2 separate regions of the Homo sapiens genome follow, and region 2 is linked to region 1. Evidence: fine-mapped expression QTL. A gene starts in region 1. The other region holds a variant in brackets. All regions are shown on one strand. Distances are between the middles of the regions.

Region 1 (10,413 bases):
GATACGATAGCCCCAAGGCTGATGGTGGACTGGGGTTATTCTAAGAGCAGGGGTCTGACCCAAAGACCTTTCTGTCAGCCCCTGACTCTGTAGGTGGGTAGCAGCAGCAGAAAGTCCATCCTCCAAGCCCTCCCTTGGGGCCCTCCGAGTTGTTATTCCACCCTCCACCCTCAGAAGCCCATCAGGGCATATTGTGTGATGGGGTGGAGAAGTTTCTGCCTCTCTTTGTCTCTCTGCAGTGACTTAGAGTGAAGGTCAATGTTGGGGGAAGCTGGGGTCACTTGTAAAGTTGACCAGAGGTGCGTAGGGAGCAGGTTCAGCTGGCTGCCCTCTCTCTGAAGGATGTCAGTCCCAAGGGAAGTCATGTCTCGCCCTCCCCACTCCCAATCCTCAGGGTCACACTGAGAGAGCTGTGTTCTGGAGATTAAAAAAAAAAAAATCTCGGCCGGGCACAGTGGCTCACGCCTGTAATCCCAGCACTTTGGGAGGCCAAGGTGGGCAGACCTGAGGTCGGGAGTTCGAGACCAGCCTGACCAACGTGGCGAAACTGTCTCTACTAAAAAATACAAAATTAGCCGGGCGTGGTGGTGCATGCCTGTAATCCCAGCTACTTGGGAGGCTGAGGCAGGAGAATCGCTTGAACCCAGGAGGCGGAGGTTGCGGTGAGCCGAGATCGCACCATTGCACTCCAGCCTGGACAACAAGAGTGAAACTCCGTCTCAAAAAAAAAAAAAAAAAAGAGATCTCATCTATCCCCATGGGTCATGGGGGGAACCTGAGGCTCAAACACTCTCCAGGGAGCATTCCTATATGGGCCAGCCCAGAGGACCTGAGGAGGCCTTAGTCTTTGATTCCCAAATGTCCTCTACCGCTGACTATAAACTTAAAAATGCCAATTTTCAGGTAATTCATATGAATATAAAAATGCTCAGTCAGCCTGGAAAACACTGCTGGCTGATTTCTCAGTGAAGTGCCTGTTTTGACTGGGCCATTCTCTCCCCATCACTGTCCCCTGACCTACTGTGGCCCTTATACAACTCAAAGCAGCCTGGAGAGGAGCCGAGAGCCACTCACTTCCTCATGAGGAAGCGATTGATGGTTTTCTGCTTCCGCATCACCTGGACAATCTTCCGGTTCAGGTAGACAAAGAGGGCTCCACCGAAGCCACTAGCAATACTGGAAAGGGAAGAGGCACCTGAGTGAAAAGGAGCCTTCTAGAAACCCCCCTCCTCTCTGATACCCCCAGCCCCCTCAGCTCCTCACCCAATGACAGCAAAGGCTGGCAGCTCCTGCAGGTCAAAGGGGAAGTCGAGCCGGAATCGGGTTTTGAAGAGGGCTGTAATAGTCTCTAAAGGGAAGAACAGCAGAGGGAGGCAGGCCTAGCCTCGTGGGCCCCCTACCTGGCACCATCTCGGGCTGCCCTCATCCCCTGGGTGCCCCCACCTTCATCCCGGTTCCAGACTGCCAAGACCCGGAAGATGAAGGCACTGAAGGTGGCAGCGAAGAAGCCCCGCCAGTAGTTCCGCACTGCAAAGAAGGTGGAGGTGACCTCGATGCTGAAGAGGACGCCTGTGAGGGGGAGGGAGACCAGCACTTGAGGCCTGGGCCTGGCCTAAGGCCTCAGACCCAGATAAGAGGGGCCAAGGAGGAGAGGCCAAGGGCAGGGTTGTGGGGCTGGACTGACCTAGGAGCCCTGCCTACCTCCAATAGGTGCCGCGAAGCAGCAGCCCACCCCCACGGCACAGGCGGCAGCCAGCATCTCTGTGTTCCGGGATTCATTCTGGCGAGAGTGGTGGCAAGAGGGGGTCAGCTGTGGGCTCAGCAGCCTCTGCCCCCTACTTGCCCCAGGGTTCCCCTTACCTCATAGATACCCCCAAAGAGGGAGAGGAACTTGCTGAGAAGGGCAGCACACATGCTTGCGATATGCACAAAAGGGCCCTGCGGGGTGGGGCAGGCGGTGAGTCGGGAGGGGGCCCGCCCTGACCTTGGCCTGGCCTCCTCTTCCACCAGGAGGGACTCCTTCATTCCCCAGCCTGCAGTTACCTCTTTGCCAAGCGGCATCCCGCTGCCTAGGGCGCAGGTCAGCCCAATGACCTTAGCTATAAAGGTCTTGAGTGTGAGGTATTCTTTCAGCACCACTCCCCGCAAGATGGTCTTCATCTCAGGGATGCCAGAGCCTGGAGAGGGAACAGTCTCAGGAGAGGCATTCGATGCACCCATTTCAGGGGTCCCGCCTCTGCCCTCCCCTTCTCTTCTAACATACCGACAGCCTGAGGGGCCAGGATCTGTGTGAATCCGGCTGAGAAAGTGATGAGGACAACAGGGTAGGTGACCCAGGCCAGGTACTGGAGCAAGATGCTGGTGTTCAAGCCCCGGGACATCCACTGCTGGGCTGTGGGAAGAGGACCTGCTGGACCCCCAGTGCACACACCCACTGCCTGCCTGGCCAGTGGACCACGCTGATACGACAGGCTGTCCCAGGGAGTACCACACAGAGTCAGGGCATGGGTGAAGGAAAGGGTCCCTGAGGGTATTCACTGGGACAAAGCGCAATCTAGGCAAGAGGATCACTTGGAGAGGGGATGCAAGAAGCTGTGCCCTGTGGGAGTGGCCGAGATGATGCCTGAATCTGGGCAGTCAGACTGGCTGGGGAAAGTGGTCAGTGGCCAAGAAGCCAAGACGCCTTCCTCCATGTCTAGACGAGTGTGGCATGGACGCAGGAGGTTTATTCCCAGTCCTCCCCCTGCCAGCTGTCACCCTCACCTTGCAGACAGGCAGCAATGGCATAGTCCATGACCCAGCTGACCAATGCCATGAGAAGCCCCAGCAGGACCAGGAAGATCCAATCTTCACCAACCCTGGATACTAGGAACTTGTGGCAGCGGACAGAACAGACTGGGTGCAGGGAAGGGAAGAAGGGGGAGGATGGCACCAAAGTGCTCCTACCCCTTTTACTGCCCCCTCAACTGTCCCCTCTCCCCCATCAGCAGCTCTAATGGCCTCTGCTTCCCTCAGCACAGCACAGCCAGGTCCCCTGCCCCCACCCCAGTTCTCACCGCGGCATCGGGCGCAACGGCTCCGTCCATATTCCAAGAGCTCTGGGGCAGCCCGAGAGGAAGGGGGACCTTTCCAGGGTTCAGGCCCTCCCAGGCGAATCCGAGCAGCTTCCTCTTTGGCAAAGGCCCCAAGGTCCTGAGTGTACCGGCCATACATCTGGAGCAACAGAGGGGATGGGGGCATTCGAGGTCATGGGCTGAGTGGGAACGCAGGGAGAGTTCTTAGAGCCTCCACTCCTCTTCTCCCAGCCCCCACACTGGATATCCCTCTTGAACGCACAGTTCCCACTCTGGCCCGAGGTGTGGGAACAATGCACATTGCAGACTGTGGAGGCTGTCCTGGCCAGAGTGATGGGGACAGCCAAGGTACAGGGACACAGCTCTGGGGGTGGCAGAATAATCGGTCCTCTTCTCACAGGCCTGGGGCTGGGGCACTGAAGAGGAGTGAGAGGGAAGCCCCAGAAGAGGAAAAGGTGGAAAAACCTGTGGCACAGTCTAAAAGTGGGAGGCGGGAAGGCCAGGGAGTAAGGGATGATCAGGGGCACATGGGCAACAATAAGAGCCTCGTGGAGCTCGGGGCAGCTGAGTTGGGCCCAGGAGCAGGCGCAGCCCCAATCCTTATCACGTTCCTGCTGGGCCTCCGGCCTGTGACCAACTCAGCTGCACCTCTCCCACCCACCCTAATCCCCTTGTCCCCATTCTCCACTGCCACCCCCACCAGCCTGCCAGCCCAGCTGGGAGTGGAAAGCCTCTCACTTAGGGTGGGTGGAGAGGGCTTGGTGGCCTCAGCCCCATTCTGGAGCTGCACTGAGCCCAGCGGTGGGTTGGGGGACAGCGGAGGCTGAGGATGGCTGGGCTGTGACTGTGGATGCTGGGGTGATGGGACGGGAGAGTCGCCTGAACCATGGCTAGACCTGCCAAGCTGGGCGTGTGTTGGGGGGCGGGGAGGAGTAGATTCTGGCTGCCACCCGCAGAGCTTCGGGACACAAAGGGCTCCTGTTGGGGCTGGGATGGGGGGGAGGGAGGGAGGGAAAGATAGAGACAGAGAGAGGGTGAGAGATAGGAAAGGGAAAGCAAAGAGAAGAGAGGGAACTAGAGAGGAGAAAGTAGAAGAGAAAAGAGAGGGAAGGCGAAGGGATGGAGAAGAGAAAGAAGGGGATGAGAGAGGAAGAAGTACGGAGGAGGAAGAGAATGGAGAGTATTAAGAGGCAAGCACGGTGTAGGAGGAGGGAGGTGAGAGTGGGAGAGAAAGACAAAGGGATAGGATGGTGAAGGGGGGCGGGAGCAGGCTGGAGCACAGAGTGCCCGGGACAGAGCTCGACCCTGAGAGCTCATTCCAGAGACAGCTGGAAGGGACGGAGATGGAGAGGTGGCTGGTGTTAAGAGGCACCATTTCAGAGGCCAGGTGCCTGGCTTCCTTGACCATGCTCCTATCCTGGTCTGGGCAGATTGGCAAGTGTCTCCTACCCCATCCCAAGGGTTGGCCCCTCTACCCTTGCTCTACTCCCACCTCTCCCTGACATCCTGATTCATCCAGCTACTTTCTCCTAACTGGGCACCTCCCAGACTTATAGCCTCTCCTCTCCAAGACGTTCCCTCCCTGCCACCTTCCTGGGCAAATTCCAGCCCAAGCTGGTAAAAAGGAACCACGGGCCCCTTCCTTTCCCTAGGGCTTGGGTCTTCCACCCCAGTGACATGAGGAGGGTCACGTGGCTTCTCAAACACCAAGTAACAATGGGGGCGATAAGTCAGCTCAGAGCCCAGGACCCCTGCTTCTAATGAGGTCAGGGGACACACCCTGGGGTGGGTGGGGGCTGGATACCCCGCATCAGCATAGACAAAGGTCCCAATTCCCACACCCATTCCTGCTTCACCCACCCTCCCTAAAGCTCCTGTCCCCCAGAGTGGCAAGCCACCTTTTTCCAGAGTCAACTGAGGGGCTCCTGGAGCCAACGCTGGGTGTGGAGCCTCCAGAGGTAGGGTCTGGGGCTGACCATCTTTCTACACACTCGATTCTATGCTTAGCATGGTGCCATGCACATGGCAGGGACACAGAGAATGTCTTGGGTGGTGGAGATAGTGGCGTAGAGAAAGTTCAATGGTGTGAATGGTGCCGCGGAAGGGGCAGTGGGGTGCTGAGACTTGGGCCCAGGTGGTGAAGGGGAGGTGCAAAGAAAACGTGCATGTTGTGGGGTGAGGGGAAGGACACCTGAGACAAGTACCTGGTGTCCTTGTCCTCTGCAGGCCCTCAGCCTCAGCCAGAAACCAGCATGCAGTTTTCCATCCCTTCGGCCCTGCAGCCTCAGACTTCCAAGCCTCAGTTTCCCCAGCTCAAAATGCTAGGACAGGATTAGGGTAGGCCCCTGGTCCTCGCGCTTCCCAGGGTAACCTGGAGCAGGGGTCCCGGAGCGCACTCCTGGGGCTCAGCTCAGCTTCACTTACCAGGGTCTGCTCGTACTGCAGCGCCCGTGGCTCCATCCCTTCCTCCGCCGCCGCGGCCGCCATCTCCGCGCACTGCCCTCTCGCCTCCCTCGGCGGTTCCGGCTCTGTCCTGGACTCGGCTCCCGGCCCGCAAAGTCCGCGCCGGCAGCCGTCCCGTCCCCGCAGCCCGGGAGGCCGAGAGCAGAGTGCGGCGGGCCCCCGGCGGGCGCCGCTGGCGCAGCCTCCCGCTCGCGTCCCCTCCCCGGCGGGCGGGCCGAGGGCGGTGCCCTCTGCGCTGCTCCGCCCGCCGGCCCATCCGGAGGGGACGGCCCAGCCAGGCTGGGGTCCGCGCGGGGCCTCCCGAGAGGCGGCAAGGGGCGCTGGGAAGGCGCAAGCCCGCGCCGGCTCCCTGCGGATGCCCGGGTCGGAGAGGGGCGCCCGGGAGGGGCGGGTCTACTGGCACGTGGAGGGGCCGGCCCGGGTTCGCGGTTCCCCGTGCCCAGGCAGGAGGGGCTGCAGACGCCTGAGCTCCGTAGGGGTTGGGGCTGGGGGCTGCGGAGCTGTCTACATCGGACTCCTCCGGGTCAGCCCGTTAGGAGCCGCCTCCCCTCTGCCCCTCCGAAGAGACGAGCGGCCCAGACAGGCCTGGGAAGGCCCCTCTGCCCCGTCAGGGGTGAAAAGCAAAGCTGGAAGGATTCGGAGAGGGTTGGGGCCGTCTTCCTCATCCTTCCTTTTCTCGGGGCTCCCGTGGGTAGGTGCACTTGGAGCAACCGGGCCTGCGGGGTGTGCGGGGGTGGAGGTTGGGGAGGGCACCGGAAGGGGTAGGCCGGAGGGAAGGGAGCTCCAGGTGCCGGGAAGTCTACTCCTGGGACGCGGGCGTGGGTCGCTTCTCCCTGGCTGGGCCCAAGGAGGAACCCAAGTCGCTGCTTCCATCCCTCCGCTTTGGGGGAACTGCCTGCTGGTGTTCTGGGTTCTCTATCAGGGGCTGGGGAAGGATAGAACAGAGGGCGGAGCGCGCGCAGGGTGGATGGGCAGCGTAGAGATAGTGTGAGAGGAGCGAGGGCAGCGCCCAGGAAACGCACAAGTGTGCGGGAGAGCCAGCACCAGGAGTAAGGGGCATTTGGGAGGCAGAGGCGGGGCTCAGGGGGCGGGAGCAGTGCCCGGGAAGGGGGGGCCTTGTGATAGAAGCCAGCACTCAGGAGGAAGGGCCAGTGTGAGGGAAGAGCTGGTATCCAAGGGACAGGGCAGTGCCAGGCTGAAGGGGCACGGAGGGGATCCGTGTCCAGGAGAAGGCAGTGGAGGGGGAACGCGCAGCACTAAGCTGGAGGGGTAATGCCCGGGGGAGGGGGGTGGCGGGAGCCCGGCTGAAGGGGCGGTGTAGGGGAAGAGAGCAGGGCCTGGGGGGAAGAGGGAGGGCAGTGGTGGGAGGGTGCAGTACGAGAGGAGGGGACAATGCAGGCTTTCCTCTTCTCCATAGCGACGTCATGGCAAATTCCCAAACTGGACGGATCCGGCTCGGGTTACGTCCAGCAGGGCCGAGCCGGCCCAGGCCGGCCCCGGGGTCCTCGGTGCCGGCTGGAGGGGCTGGGCACCTCTGGGGCGGGGTTCTGCTCCACCTGCCCTCGGCGCGGACTGTGCCCTCGGCGGGCACGCGGACCGGCGGGGTAGGGCTAGGGCCCGGCTTCTCTGGGCCAAGGATCAAGGTCCCTGCCTGGGTTAGGCCCCCACGCATTCCAGTCTTCGGAACCCGGCCTCTGAAGAGGGCGCAGTAGGGCCCCAGCGGAGCGCGAGAACCCGCTCTACAGCCTATTGCTTCCCCGCCCTGGGCAGAGCCACCTGGACATGAGACCCGCCCTCAATGCCGAAGCCTCTCGGAAGCAATCTTTCGGGACGGAAGTTAAGTAGCCCCGAGCGGGAGGCTGTGGCGGAAGTGGTCGCGTTACCGCTTGTTTGTGCGCATGCGCCACTCTCGTCTGGCCGCCGCGCTTTCAGGAGGTGCTTTTGGTTCTCTCCGGTCTTGTCCACGCTAGGGGGTGCACGTACTCCCAACTGTGGTCGCGCTCTCACCCCTTCTGCTGCTCTCGTGGCCCCCTCGCGATGGCGGGCATCCTGTTTGAGGATATTTTCGATGTGAAGGATATTGACCCGGAGGGCAAGAAGTTTGACCGAGGTAAGTAAGGTATGTAGGGGCGGTTTGGAGGAAGAGGCTAACCTCGCGGACATGCCCCTGGGCCCCGTGTCCACCCAGCTCTTGTGGCCTGCCCCTACCAGCAGGTCCTGGTGTAGGGACCTCCCTCAGTAAACATTTTATGGATGAGAAAACGGAGACTCCCGAGCTCTCTCTGGCTTCACGCATGCCGTGCCCGGTGCCTGGGTGGCCTTTTGTCATGGTGCTGGCAAACTCCTAGGCATATTTATAATCGCTACCTGCTCTGTGCTAGACACTGTCTTGTGAGACCAGCCTGGCCAACATGGTGAAACCCCGTCTCTACCAAAAATACAAAAATTAGCCTGGCGTGGTGGCGGGCGCCTGTAATCCCAGCTACTTGGGAGGCTAAGGCAGGAGAATTGCCTGAACCTGGGAGGCGGAGGTTGCAGTGAGCCAAGATCGCGCCACTGCACGCCAGCCTGGGCGGCAGAGCGAGACTCCGTCTCAAAAAAATGACAGTCCTCATGAGGTGGGTGGTGCCTTTCCCATTTTTCTCTGAGAGGTTGAGTAAACCACCCAAGGCTTCACAGCGAGTAATCTGACTTCAGAGCCTATATTCTTGTATTGCCCTCAGAATCTTTAGCGCTTTGTGAAGTCTTCTTTGAGTTAGAGTTAGCTGCTTGGTATATACCTTTTTTTTTTTGAGACGCAGCCTTTCTCTGTTGCCCAGGCTGGAGTGTAGTGGCACGATTTTAGCTCACCACAACCTCCGTCTCCCGGGTTCAAGCGATTCTCTGCCTCAACCTCCCAAGTAGCTGGGATTACAGGCATGCGCCACCACGCCTGGCTAATTTTGTATTTTTAGTAGAGACAGGGTTTCACCGTGTTGGCCAGGCTGGTCTCAAACTCCTGATCTCAAATGATCCACCTGCCTCGGCCTCCCAAAATGTCGGGATTACAGGCATGAGCCACTGCACCGGCCTACACCTCTTTATTTTGTCATCTATCAATAATTTTCTCTTTGATGTCTCTTTCTTTGCCTGGAGACTAAGATGTTTTTCAAGACGGATACCAGTTCTTATACATCTTGGTCACTCCCCTCAGCACAGTGCCTAGCATAGAAAGAGAAAACCTTTGGATGATTGAATAACTTGCCCAGAGTCAGGTTCTCAGTCATCCAGGCAGGCTTTGCTGCTGGAGTATCTTTGGTTGTTTTCTGGGGATTACGTTCGCTTGCCACAGTTTTTCTCCCCTTTTCCTTCTTGCATATCTGGTTCTGATTGAGCCTGAATTTCTATGAGAGCAGATGAGAGACCACTGGATGTAGACTGGGTTAGATTGAGTATCCTGTTGCATACAATCCCACACTGTAGGATCTGCCTTGGCAATACCTCTGTCACTCTTTTCCTGCTTCTCCCCAGTGTCTCGACTGCATTGTGAGAGTGAATCTTTCAAGATGGATCTAATCTTAGATGTAAACATTCAAATTTACCCTGTAGACTTGGGTAAGTATTGAATACAGACAATAATAAGAGACTTTTTGCTGCTTCTGCTATTCTTTACTCTCTGATATTGCTGTTATTTTCAGGTGACAAGTTTCGGTTGGTCATAGCTAGTACCTTGTATGAAGATGGTACCCTGGATGATGGTGAATACAACCCCACTGATGATAGGCCTTCCAGGTGAGGGAGTGGAGAAGGTAATACTTGAAATATGCCTTGAGGACTAAGTAGATAAGTGATATAGAAAGACTCTTCTAAAATTCCTGGAATAAATGATGATCAGCAGAATCTGAGTAACCTTAAGGAAATTTCTGCACTTAAGAATTCAAACAGGCCAGGCACCGTGGCTCACACCTGTAACCCAAGCACTTTGGGAGGCCGAGGCAGGAGGATTGCTTGAGTCCAGGAGTTCAAGACCAGCCTGAGCAACATAGCGAAACCTCACTGCTACAAAAAAGAAGAGAGAAAAAAAAAAAAGGCTGGGCATGGTGTCATGTGCCTGTAGTCCCAGCTGCCTGGGAGGCTGAGGTGGGAGGATTGCCTGAGCCAGGGAGGTTGAGGCTGCAGTGAGCCATGATTGCACCACTGCACTCCAGCCTGGGTGACAGAGCAAGACCGTGTCTCAAAAAAAAAGAAAAAAATTCGGGCCGGGCGCGGTGGCTCACGCCTGTAATCCCAGCACTTTGGGAGGCCGAGGCGGGCGGATCACGAGGTCAGGAGATCGAGACCATCCTGGCTAAAACGGTGAAACCCCGTCTCTACTAAAAATACAAAAAAAAATTAGCCGGGCGTAGTGGCGGGCGCCTGTAGTCCCAGCTACTTGGGAGGCTGAGGCAGGAGAATGGCGTGAACCCGGGAGGCGGAGCTTGCAGTGAGCCGAGATCCCGCCACTGCACTCCAGCCTGGGCGACAGAGCGAGACTCCGTCTCAAAAAAAAAAAAAAAAAGAAAAAAATTCAAACAACCAGGTATTTATCTATAACAGTGATTACATGCTTGTGAGTTGCAGCCTTTTGAAGGCTGAGGAGGTAACTGCTGAGTGACCTAGGCCATGTGGGTCTTGTGTCTTGGGAGGGAGCTTGGTGTGATGGAAAGACTTTGGCACCCCACTTGAGTTCATTTCTCAGCTCTACCACTTATTTGTTGAGTAACCTTAATCTCCTTCAGCCTGTTTCCTCATCAATAAAATAGAGATGGTCATGCCTAGCTCATGGGGTTGCCATGAGGACTAAATGACATCATGTTTGTAATGTGCCTGTTGTTATAATGCTGGCATTTAGTTACCA
Region 2 (10,481 bases), 600 kb before region 1:
AGCCTGCCTATGGTGTTAAAAGATTTATCATATCAAGATTCAGCAGTTACAAAAAAAGGTTCAGCAGTTTTGCACTGCTGTGTAAAGCACTGCTTTCTGAACTATAAGGTGCATACCAGGAGATCTTGTTGAAGTGAGATTTATGTTTAGTAGGTCAAGGATGGGACCATAAAATCTGTTTCTTACAATTTCCTCGATGATACTGATGCTGTTGATCCATGGATAAGGATGCAGAGCATGAAACATACATCCTCTGCCTCCTTTGTACCTCTGTTGCTGCTCAGTACCGGGAGCACGCAGTATCCATTTTATTTTCCCAATTTGTTACCTTTGTCCTGGTGGCACTGACCTTCTTCCTTGTCCTCGACATCTTCTTACGTGAGTTGAATATGTGTATTTTGTTTGTATTCTCTCTTTTTAATTAATAAGGTTCCCCAATATCAACTCCAAGCCCATCACCATTGCCTCGAACCCCGACTTCCACTCCAGTCCACGTGAAGCAAGGCACTGCCGGCTCTGTTATTAATAATCCTTATGTTATCATGGACAAGCAGCCGGGGCAGGTGATTGGAGCCACCACTCCCAGTACAGGTGTGTATTAGATCCATATTTGTACCATCTAAAGGGTTTGATCTTTATTAAAAATGTAATCCTGCCATGACTTGGTAGCCATGTAATTGGAGAATGAAATCTCCCGTAAACGAGAAGCGAGAATAAGTAAAAGGAAAGCCAATACTCTTTCTCTGAGGGGAGATTTACTCTGTAAAAGTTGCATTTTTTAGAATTTACTTGAGTTTTCTTTTAATTTCTAAAAGTTCAAAATAAGCCATAATGAATGTTCTTAAAAGAATAGTTGATTTTGTTTTCATTTGGAAGACTTACGCTTTGGGGGACTGTAAGCAATGTGGTTACTACCTCTTCCAAAGAAGCTTTTGCTAACCTTGTGGGCCACATACCGTTCTCCCCAGTCAAATAAAAAATGATATTATTTTCTTCAAGGAAGACCCATTCTGCTTGTGGGAGGGGAAATTGAAACCTGCAGTTTTAAAGAGAACTCTAATAGGAAAAAGTCATCCTTGGGTTCACCGTGTTCCTCACTGTAATCCCATGCTTTTTAGGTTTTTTTGAAATGCTTTCTCTAACATTATTTTATTTATTCCCTTCAGTTAACCTGTATTTATTGTTAATTAATTAATTTATTAATTTATTGAGACAGAGTCTTGCTCTTTTCACCCAAGCTGGAGTGCAGTGGCGTGATCTCGGCTCACTGCAACCTCCACCTCCTGGGTTTAAGCAATTCTCCTGCCTCAGCCTCCCATGTAGCTGGAATTACAGGCGTGCACCACCACGCCCAGCTAATTTTTGTATTTTTAGTAGAGATGGGGTTTCACCATGTTGGCCAGGCTGGTCTCAAACTCCAATCCACCTGCCTCAGCCTCCCAAAGTGCTGGATTTACAGGCGTGAGCTACCACGCCTGGCCCCATTCAACCTGTATTTAAACACACGCTCCTAACTATAAACTTCCCTGAAGTTTTCACTTCTAATTAAGAGAAATAGAAGATAAATGAAATAAAAGGGATGATTATAAGATAATGAGACTGATTTTTTTGTTGTTGTTTGTTTGACCTATTGGATTTAACACATGAATGTATGTTGGGCTTTTCCAAGCAGTTTTTTTTTTTTTTGGAAAGGCTAAATTTTAATAGTGATTGTAATTGTGGAATGCCCTTAAAAATTACTGTGTTCAAGGCTTACCCAGTACCTTTCGAACATACTTAAGGATGCCAAATAGGTGTTATTTCATGACATTTTGTTTTAGGAATCAGCTAGAAGTCTTTGGAGGCAAGTTTGGTAAATGGAGTAAATGATTAAATACTATTTGGGGTCTTGACTTGTTGACTATAGGTAATATATGACTAAATTTTTTTCAGACTCTAAAGGCAGTTGTACAGATGGAGTATAAAATGTTTAATGTTGGCCAGGCGTGGTGGCTCATGCCCATAATCCCAGCACTTTGGGAGGCCAAGGTGGGCGGATCACCTGAGGTCAGGAGTTCGAGAGCAGCCTGGCTAACATGGCGAAACCCATCTCCACTAAAAATAGAAAAATTAGCCAGGTGTGGTAGCGCGTGCCTGTAGTCCCAGCTACTGGGGAGGCTGAGGTGGGAGAATCACTTGAACCCAGTAGGTGGAGGTTGCAGTGAGCCGAGATCAGGCAACTGCACTCCACCCCGGGTGACAGAGCGAGACTCCATCTCAGGAAAAAAAAATAATAATGTTGGCAGCATTTTGGAATAGGCATAACTTTCTGGTGAAACTACTTTGAAGGAGCTAGCAGAATGCATATATTCTGGCACATTTGTTAAACAGTATCATTATGTTGTAGTGTCTTTTATTGTATGAGGAGTAGAACATACAAGTAGAATACGTTATAGTGTCTTTTATTGTATAAGGAGTAGAATATACGAGAATATGCTACTGTTTATTGTACAAGGAGTAGTCTAAAACAAGTGACTTTACTACTTATTCTTCTGCATGTCCTTACCAGCTTCTTACCTTCTTCAGGTTGAGCATGAGATCAGCTTCACAGGGATGGGTCCTTAAGGGTTTTTTTCCATACTAGTTTCAGCCTTAACAATGAGTTTTCAACCCTTAAACATGAAAAATAAATAGTGCGAAAGAGGGGAGGATGGTAGAAATGCTTTAAAATTACCTTTTGTAAATTTTACTTTGTTTATGTTTTAATTGTGCCTTGCTTATCAGGAAGTCCTACAAACAAGATCTCCACGGCTTCTCAGGTCTCCCAAGGAACAGGTTCCCCTGTTCCTAAAATTCATGGAAGTAGTTTTGTAACATCTACTGTCAAGGTAACATTCTTACTGCGTTATTACACTTTGCTAGCTTCTTTTTCTTTTCATTTTTAAAAAATAATTTTTCAAATGGAGATGGGGTCTCCCCGTATTAACCAGGCTGTATCGAACTCCTGGCCTCAAGAGATCTGCCACCTCACCTGCCAGGGTACTGCGGTTACAGGCATGAGCTGCACCCCGCCACTTTGCCGGTTTCTGAACATAGTATGTTCAGCCTCAGCAAGAATGTGTCAGTTGATGACGCAAATTTCATAAAATGGAATCTTCAAGCTGTTAAGTATCTAGACTTTACTACCCCCAGACTTTACTAACTTACTTGGATCTACTCCAGACTTTACTACCTTACTTGGATCTTTTCATAGTGTCACAAATGCTTCACAACACTTGTGTGAAATAGTCACCCAGTATCAATTTAAAAACTTACTGTGATAAGATTATTTATTTACTTATTTGAAAAGTTTGTTAAAAATACTTGCTTATAAAAATATTCATCTGACCTCTTCCCTTTTGGACACCTCTCTCTCTCGCAACAGAGAGCTGCTGTCCTCTCCCCTTTCTTTTGCTTATTAAACTTTCTGCTCCTTAACCCATAAAAAAAATAAAAATTTAAAAATATAAAAACATTCATCTGACAGCACGTTCCTATCTTTTCTATGTTTGCATCACCAAGAAGTAAATATACAAATGGCTCCCACCTTACAGTGGTCCAACTTAACGATTTTTCGACTTTACCGTGGTGCAAAAGCAATATGCACTTAGCGAGCCCTCAGCTTACGCTGGGGTTATATTCAGATAAACCCACCATACGGTGAAAGTGTGGGAAGTCAAAAATGCACTTTTGGCCTATGATGTTTTCCCCTTATGATGGGTTTATCCAGACGTAACCCCATCCTAAGTCGGGGAGCATCAGTGTTTCCTTTTCCATGTGTTAACCGTTTAGCTATTTGAAAATAATGCTTACCTCCACAGAGTCTCTCCCCTGCTCCCCTTTTTCTGGGTAAGCAGTCCTTTAAAATTT[A/T]CAACTCCAAATATGATCTGACCTGTTCCAGTCAAATGACTGGTGCCTGACACAGCATTTCTTTTATTTAGACACTAATGATGATATTGAATGACTTCCTGGTCCAAGGCGAGGCTGTTCTCTAAGTTCTGTGCAGTGTGTTGGCACTGTTATATGAATGTCTGAATTATAGTAATCTTGAAAGTCTTAACTCTGCTGGTTTAATTTTTATTGTTTGTTGGTGATCATTTTACTTTACAGCCAAGAAGTGTTCTTCGTTTCCAAATTTTGACAGATTACCTCTGAGATTTGCATTTTGTGTTTGAGAATTAAAGAGAAACTACAGAATTTTTTTTTTTTTTTTTTTTTTTTTGAGACAGAGTTTCGCTCTCGTTGCCAAGGCTGGAGTGCAGTGGCGCAATCTTGGCTCACTGCAACCTCCTGCCTCCTGAGTTCAAGCGATTCTGCGGTCTCAGTCTCCTGAGTAGCTGGGGTTACAGGGCATGCGCCCCACGCCCGGATAATTTTGTATTTTTAGTAGAGACGGGGTTTCTCCACGTTGGTCAGGCTGGTCTCGAACTCCTGATCTCAGGTAATCTGCCCGCCTCAGCCTCCCAAAGTGCTGGGATTACAGGCGTGAGCCGCTGCGCCTGGCCAGAACTACAGAAGTTTTGAATGTTGACTTTCGTTGTCTTTGCCTGTGCCAAATTATTCAAGTTTTTTGTTTGTTTGCTTGTTTTTTAAGTTTTTATTGAAAATTTTTCCTTTGTATTCTGGGTGTTCATTGAGTAAATTTTGCAAATCAGTTGTGAGTACTATTAAAAGAGAGTATATACTGAAACATTGCAGCTGCCTGTTTCTTTCATTTATTTATTTAGTGCCTAGGCTCCAGGGATATAAAATTAAATACAGTCCCTGTCCTTTAGTGGTTTACCAACTATCGGGGAAGACCAATAAAGTCAGCCAAATGTTAGGGGTAGTAAGTTAGAAGTCTTTCCAGTGTACAGCAGGACACAGATGAGTAGATTCTTGCCAAGTTACAGCTTTTCTTTGCATTTGTTTTCTAAAACAATATTAAAATGCAGGTGTAGAGGCTTGGAAGACCCCAAGGAATTTTAGGTTTTTTTCTTTCTTTTTTTTTTACGGAGTTTTGCTCTTGTCACCCAGGCTGGAGTGCAGTGGCGTGATCTCGGCTCACCACAACCTCTGCCTCCCTGGTTCAAGTGATTCTACTGCCTCAGCCTCCCAAGTAGCTGGGATTACAGGCACCCGCCACCACACCCGGCTAATTTTGTATATTTAGTAGAGACAGGGTTTCTCCGTGTTGGTCAGGCTGGTCTTGATCTCCCGACCTCAGGCGATCCACCCACCTCTGCCTCCCAAAGTGCTGGGAGTACAGGCGTGAGCTACCGCACCCAGCCAGTCTTTTTATTTCTTTATATTGCTAGAGAATGTCACAGGTTTGTATTAAATATAAGTGACTAGATATCTGAAATCACCCATTTCTCCTGATTGTAAAATATGTATTTTTACACACACAGCAGGAGGATTCTTTGTTTGCATCTATGCCACCTCTTTGCCCAATTGGGAGTCACCCTAAGGTTCAAAGCCCCAAACCTATAACAGGAGGACTTGGAGCTTTCACAAAAGTGAGTATGTATTAGGGCATTGTCCCACAAGTCATAATACTTTTTGTGGCATGTTGGAGTTCATTGCCACTACCCCTACAACATGTTACTTTTTAGTGGGTCTCAACTCCTCATTCTGAGACGTGCTTCCATGTATTTAATGATGTCCTCAGGGCAGCCCTTGGAGTCCAGCAAGATGGGGATTCATGGAGCACAGTGTGTTTGTTTCTCTCTGCTGTCATTTGCCACAGTCTCTAAAACAAGTGACTGTGTTATTACAGGAGCACAGGATCAAGTTCAGATCCTACTTTTGGTCCCTTTAATAGCTGGTATGGACTGTATTTAAGCAGTATGTATATTTACCCTTCTGGTGGAGTCATTCTTTACGTATCAAGTTTCATCAATTCATTAATCCCTGCAAACGGAGAAGAGTCAGATATTAGCAGCTTTATAAAATGGGATGTTTATGGATGTTTATTCAGTGTCATTATGTTTGTTGCAAGGTGATCATCAAACAGGAACCTGGTGAAGCCCCTCACGTGCCCGCAACAGGAGCTGCCAGCCAGTCACCACTCCCGCAGTATGTGACTGTGAAAGGGGGTCACATGATAGCTGTGTCCCCTCAAAAACAGGTCATAACTCCTGGAGAAGGGATTGCCCAGTCAGCAAAGGTTCAGCCCTCCAAGGTTTGTGTTGGGTAGAGATGGGAAATTTCACATGTAAATGATGTTGTTTGCCTAAATAATTGACAAGTGCTGAAAAGATTCACGGTGACAGGGTTGATGATCCCATAAGAACCTGTGGGTGAAAGCCTAGTTGGAAAAACAAGTCTGTTGGTGTGAAACTCTTCTACTCCTGTAGTAATCATTGGCAAGAGCCGCGTTATGTATTGCAAAGGATCCCGGAATGGGCCAAGAGGCAGGGGAACACTGCTGTCTCTGGCAGTGGAGGCAGAGCTGACTCATGGGCACAGCTTTCTACTTGATTCATCTCTAAAAGGGATCCGCTGTTGACTTGTTTATTTATGGTAGGAGAATGCTGTAGTTTATACCTCTGATGTTCGGGCTGTTACCTGTTTAATGATTCTTAGCTTTCTGTAGAGTTCTTTTTTTTTTTTAATAATTTGGAGGTACAGGAGAATTAATGTATTGAGAGAATTTTAAAATAGCACATAGAGGCCGGGCATGGTGGCTCACGCCTGTGATCCCAGCACTTTAGGAGGCTGAGGCGGGCGGATTACCTGAAGGCAGGAGTTCGAGACCAGCCTGACCAACATGGAGAAACCCCATCTCTACTAAAAATACAATATTAGCGGGGTGTGGTGGCACATGCCTGTAATCCCAGCTACTCGGGAGACTGAGGCAGGAGAATTGCTTGAACCTGGGAGGCAGAGGTTGCGGTGAGCTGAGATCGCGGCACTGCACTCCAGCCTGGGTGACAGAGAGAGACTCTGTCTCAAAAAAATAAAAATTAAAAAATTAAAAAAAAAAATAGCACATAGAGCCATGTTTTCCTGAATCAATTGGAAATGTAGCCATGCATCACCTGATGATGGTACATTCTGAGACGTGTCATTAGGTGATTTTGTTGTGTGAACATCGCAGTGTACTTAAATCCAGATAGAATAGCTAACTACACACTTAGGCTGTATGGTGTGGCCTATTGCTCCTAGGCTGTAAACCTGTTCCGCATGTTACTATTGAATACTATAGGAAGTTGTAATAGAACAATAAGTATTTGTGGATCTCAACATATCTAAATATAGAAAAGATACTGTAAAAATACAGTGTTATAATCTTATGGGACCACTGTTAATATATGCAGTCTGTCATTGACTAAAACATCGTTAATGTGGTAGATGACTATGGTATCAATATTGAGTGCTTTTGTGTATGCCATGCTTGTATTTCTACATTTTCTATAATCCACACACAACCCTGGAGGGTGGGGATTTTCATCCCTGTTTTACAAATGAGGAAACTGTGGCTCAGAGGTTAAACAGTTTCCTTGGGAGCATTACAGCTAATAAATGACAAAGTGTTTAAAGTCAGGCCTGCTAACTCCAAGCTCCCCATTTCAGAACTAATGAAAAGTGGTTGTCTCTAACCTTGGTATGCTTTCAGAGCATCAGGGTTAAATTACCTCAACTTTTGGCAGGTATACTCTAAAGCTATTAAGTATATAATATGGGCTCGGCATGGTGGCTCACACCTGTGAGCCACCTAACACTTTGGCAGTCCAAGGCGGACAGATCACTTCAGGTCAGGAGTTTGAGACCAGCCTGTCCGACGTGGTGAAACCCCATCTCTACTAAAAATACAAAAACCGAGCGTGGTGGGTGGCATGCACCTGTAATCCCAGCTACTTGGGAGGCTGAGGCAGGAGAATCACTTGAACCCAGGAGGCGGAGGTTGCAGTGAGCCAAGACTGTGCCACTGCATTTCAGCCTGGGTGACAGAGGGAGACTGTCTCAAAAACAAAAAAACAAAAAACAATGGCTGGGCACGGTGGCTCACGCCCGTAATCCCAGCACTTTGAGAGGCTGAGGCGTGCGTTATCACCTGAGGTCAGATGTTGAAGACCAGCCTGGTCAACTTGGTGAAACTGTCTCTACCAAAAATACAAGAATTAGGTGGACATGGTGTCGGGCTCCTGTAATCTCAACTAGTCAGGAGGCTGAGGCAGGAGAATGGCTTGAACACAGGAGGTGGAAGTTGCAGTGAGCTGAGATCGCACCATTGCACTCCAGCCTGGGCAACGAGTGAAACTCTGTTTAAAAAAAAAAAAAAAAAAAAAAAAGATATCATATAGATGTTTTTCAGCTTGAAACCCAGCCTACCTATCTAAGGAGAATGAATTGTTTTAAGAATAGCCCAAAATCGAAAAAGATTTTAGCTATCAGATAGAGATTAGGATCAACTTAAAAATTCATAGAGCTTGTCGCAGTGGCTCACGCCTATAATTCCAGCACTTTGGGAGGTCAAGGCGGGTGGATCGCCTGAGGTCAGGAGTTCGAGATCAGGCCAACATAGTGAAACCCCGTCTATACTAAAAATACAAAAAATTATTTGGGCGTGGTGGCGGGCGCCTGTAATCCCAGCTACTCGGGAGGCTGAGGCAGGAGAAACGCTTGACCCCGGCAGGCAGAGGTTGCAGTGAGACGAGATCTTGCTATTGCACTCCAGCCTGGGCAACAAGAGCAAAACTCCATCTCAAAAAAATAAAATAAAATTCGTGGTGTTATCGGTGGTTCTAAAATCTGTTAAGTTTATTAACGACTTTCTCAGACTTACCTGGTTATAAGAATCATCTGCTGATAGCTACCTAGGCCACCATCTCAAACTTACTGCATCGGATTCTTCTTGAGATCCCTGGGAATCTGGGTTTTTAATAAGTGTTTCTGCTGATTCATCTACTTAGGCAGCAGATTTAGGAATCATGGTGCTACAGCATCTCATTTGACTTTGAGGCATTCGTAGCCAGAATGACTAAGACAGGCATCCCCAACTGCTTACTAGTGCTCCCACTGTGGTTCTGGCTTCAGGGGTAAGAATTCTGCCAAAATCCCTTAGTAAATCAGTTATTGTCATCTGAACTTCCTACTCAGGCTTGTCGTATATGTACCTCAAAATCTGTTTTGCTTCACATAGGGATATGTGGCTTTACTGATTTCTGCTTTGAATCAACTTAGCATTGCTGTTTATGTTAGAAGCTCTTGGATAAGTTCGTTTCCATTTTTTGCCGCTTTGCATATTGCCAATCCACTCCTCCAGTGATGCTGAACAACTGTACTGACTTGTCACATGGCCACCTACTTAATGGTAAATGTAAGGTTGGAGGAGATAGGTGGGTCTGTGCCACAATGCCCTAAATATGGTTTAAGGGCATCTGAAAAGAAAAACCACAGCAAAGTGTGAAGGAACTGCAGAGAAGCAGTAGTGCGTGAGATGATACCACTGTTTACCCAGGAAATGGAATCCATGATTAGCAGTTGAGATAAGGAGCTGTCTGTGAGTACAGACTGTTCCTGGTTATTGCTGAAGTGCATTCCTAGAAACTATGCCAGAGAACAGGCTGGGTGTGTGGTTCATGCTTGTAATTCCAGCACTTTAGGAGGCTGAGGTGGGCAGATCACCTGAGGTCAGGAGTTCGAGACCAGCCTGGCCAACATGGTGAAACCCTGTCTCTACTAAAAATACAAAAATTAGCCAGACATGGTGGTGTGCACCTGTAATCCCAGCTACTTGGGAGGCTGAGGCAGGAGAATTGTTTGAACCTGGGAGGTCAAGGTTGCAGTGAACTGAGATGACGCCACTGTACTCCAGCCTGGGAGATAGAGCAAGACTCTGTCTAAAAAAAAAAAAAAAGATATGCCAGGAAACAGGAGGGTGGCAAAAAATGGCACTGTTTTACCCTCCATACAACTTTGGGACAACAGAAACACAGCTGATCTTTTTCCTCAAAGTGGGAAGAGGTGCTGCCTTTGACATGAAAAGGGACAACTGAGGAATAAGTAGTTCCATATGGGAAGGAAGCAGTGTGTTAAAGTAGAAGGAGCATGAGCTTTGCAGTTAGAGCTTGTTGCAAATCTCAGATCTCAGCCACTCATTACTGGTGTAACCTGTGCAGGTTCTGAGCCCTGGTCTTTCAGGGTTGTAGAAGAATTAGAGATTGTATATGAAGGACCTACCTAGCACAGAGCAAGTGCTCAGTAAATAGTAACTAATGTGAGTATCAGGCATATCCATGCCTAAGTACCATTGTAATGGTTATCAGTGAGCACTTAACTTGTAAACAGCCATATTTTTTAATATCTGGAGGGAAAATCTCAGATACAGACTCTTCCCCTTCAGTTTGCTGAAGTAAATTCTGACTTGCCACAGGTATGTGTAGGAAACAGGGAGGGCAGAAATAGAAACATTTAATCAAAGCATGAATCGAAGTTAAGTGTATAACAAATACAAAACAATGGGTGTCTGCTTTCTC

Alleles and levels. Positions count from the first base shown, and alleles are read on the strand shown. Sizes are in standard deviations (SD) of each study's normalised expression.
With allele A in place of T in region 2, the expression in monocytes of the gene that starts at base 5,792 in region 1 is lower (large effect, 0.86 SD a copy in Quach 2016).

Evidence for each region. PIP is the estimated chance that this variant, and not a neighbour inherited with it, causes the effect.
Region 2: its variant is the best candidate, but not a certain one, in a credible set for the expression of POLR2H in monocytes (Quach 2016, PIP 0.66).

The regions. Positions count from the first base shown.
Region 1 is chr3:184,355,919-184,366,331 of GRCh38, forward strand. POLR2H (RNA polymerase II, I and III subunit H) reads left to right here and starts at 5,792. Exons shown (of 6, transcript NM_006232.5): 1 at 5,792-6,228; 2 at 6,955-7,647; 3 at 9,048-9,131; 4 at 9,215-9,308. The coding sequence starts at 7,575. It overlaps CLCN2 (chloride voltage-gated channel 2), which reads right to left and starts at 5,687. Exons shown (of 24, transcript NM_004366.6): 1 at 5,499-5,687; 2 at 3,057-3,213; 3 at 2,764-2,895; 4 at 2,264-2,392; 5 at 2,044-2,177; 6 at 1,861-1,938; 7 at 1,702-1,780; 8 at 1,444-1,569; 9 at 1,264-1,348; 10 at 1,075-1,176. The coding sequence starts at 5,561. LOC124906311 (a long non-coding RNA gene) reads left to right here and starts at 4,409. Exons shown (of 3, transcript XR_007096193.1): 1 at 4,409-4,839; 2 at 4,946-5,032; 3 at 5,301-5,393. RefSeq lists enhancers at 3,319-3,832, 3,833-4,344, 7,682-7,801, 8,162-8,231 and silencers at 5,462-6,051, 6,612-6,881, 6,952-7,221, 7,282-7,461.
Region 2 is chr3:183,756,099-183,766,579 of GRCh38, forward strand. It overlaps YEATS2 (YEATS domain containing 2), which reads left to right. Exons shown (of 31, transcript NM_018023.5): 12 at 430-591; 13 at 2,764-2,867; 14 at 5,409-5,516; 15 at 5,999-6,181. Among named protein-coding and RNA genes, the nearest start is that of YEATS2-AS1, 49 kb to the right of the region's middle. The variant A/T (reference allele first, on the strand shown) is at 3,889.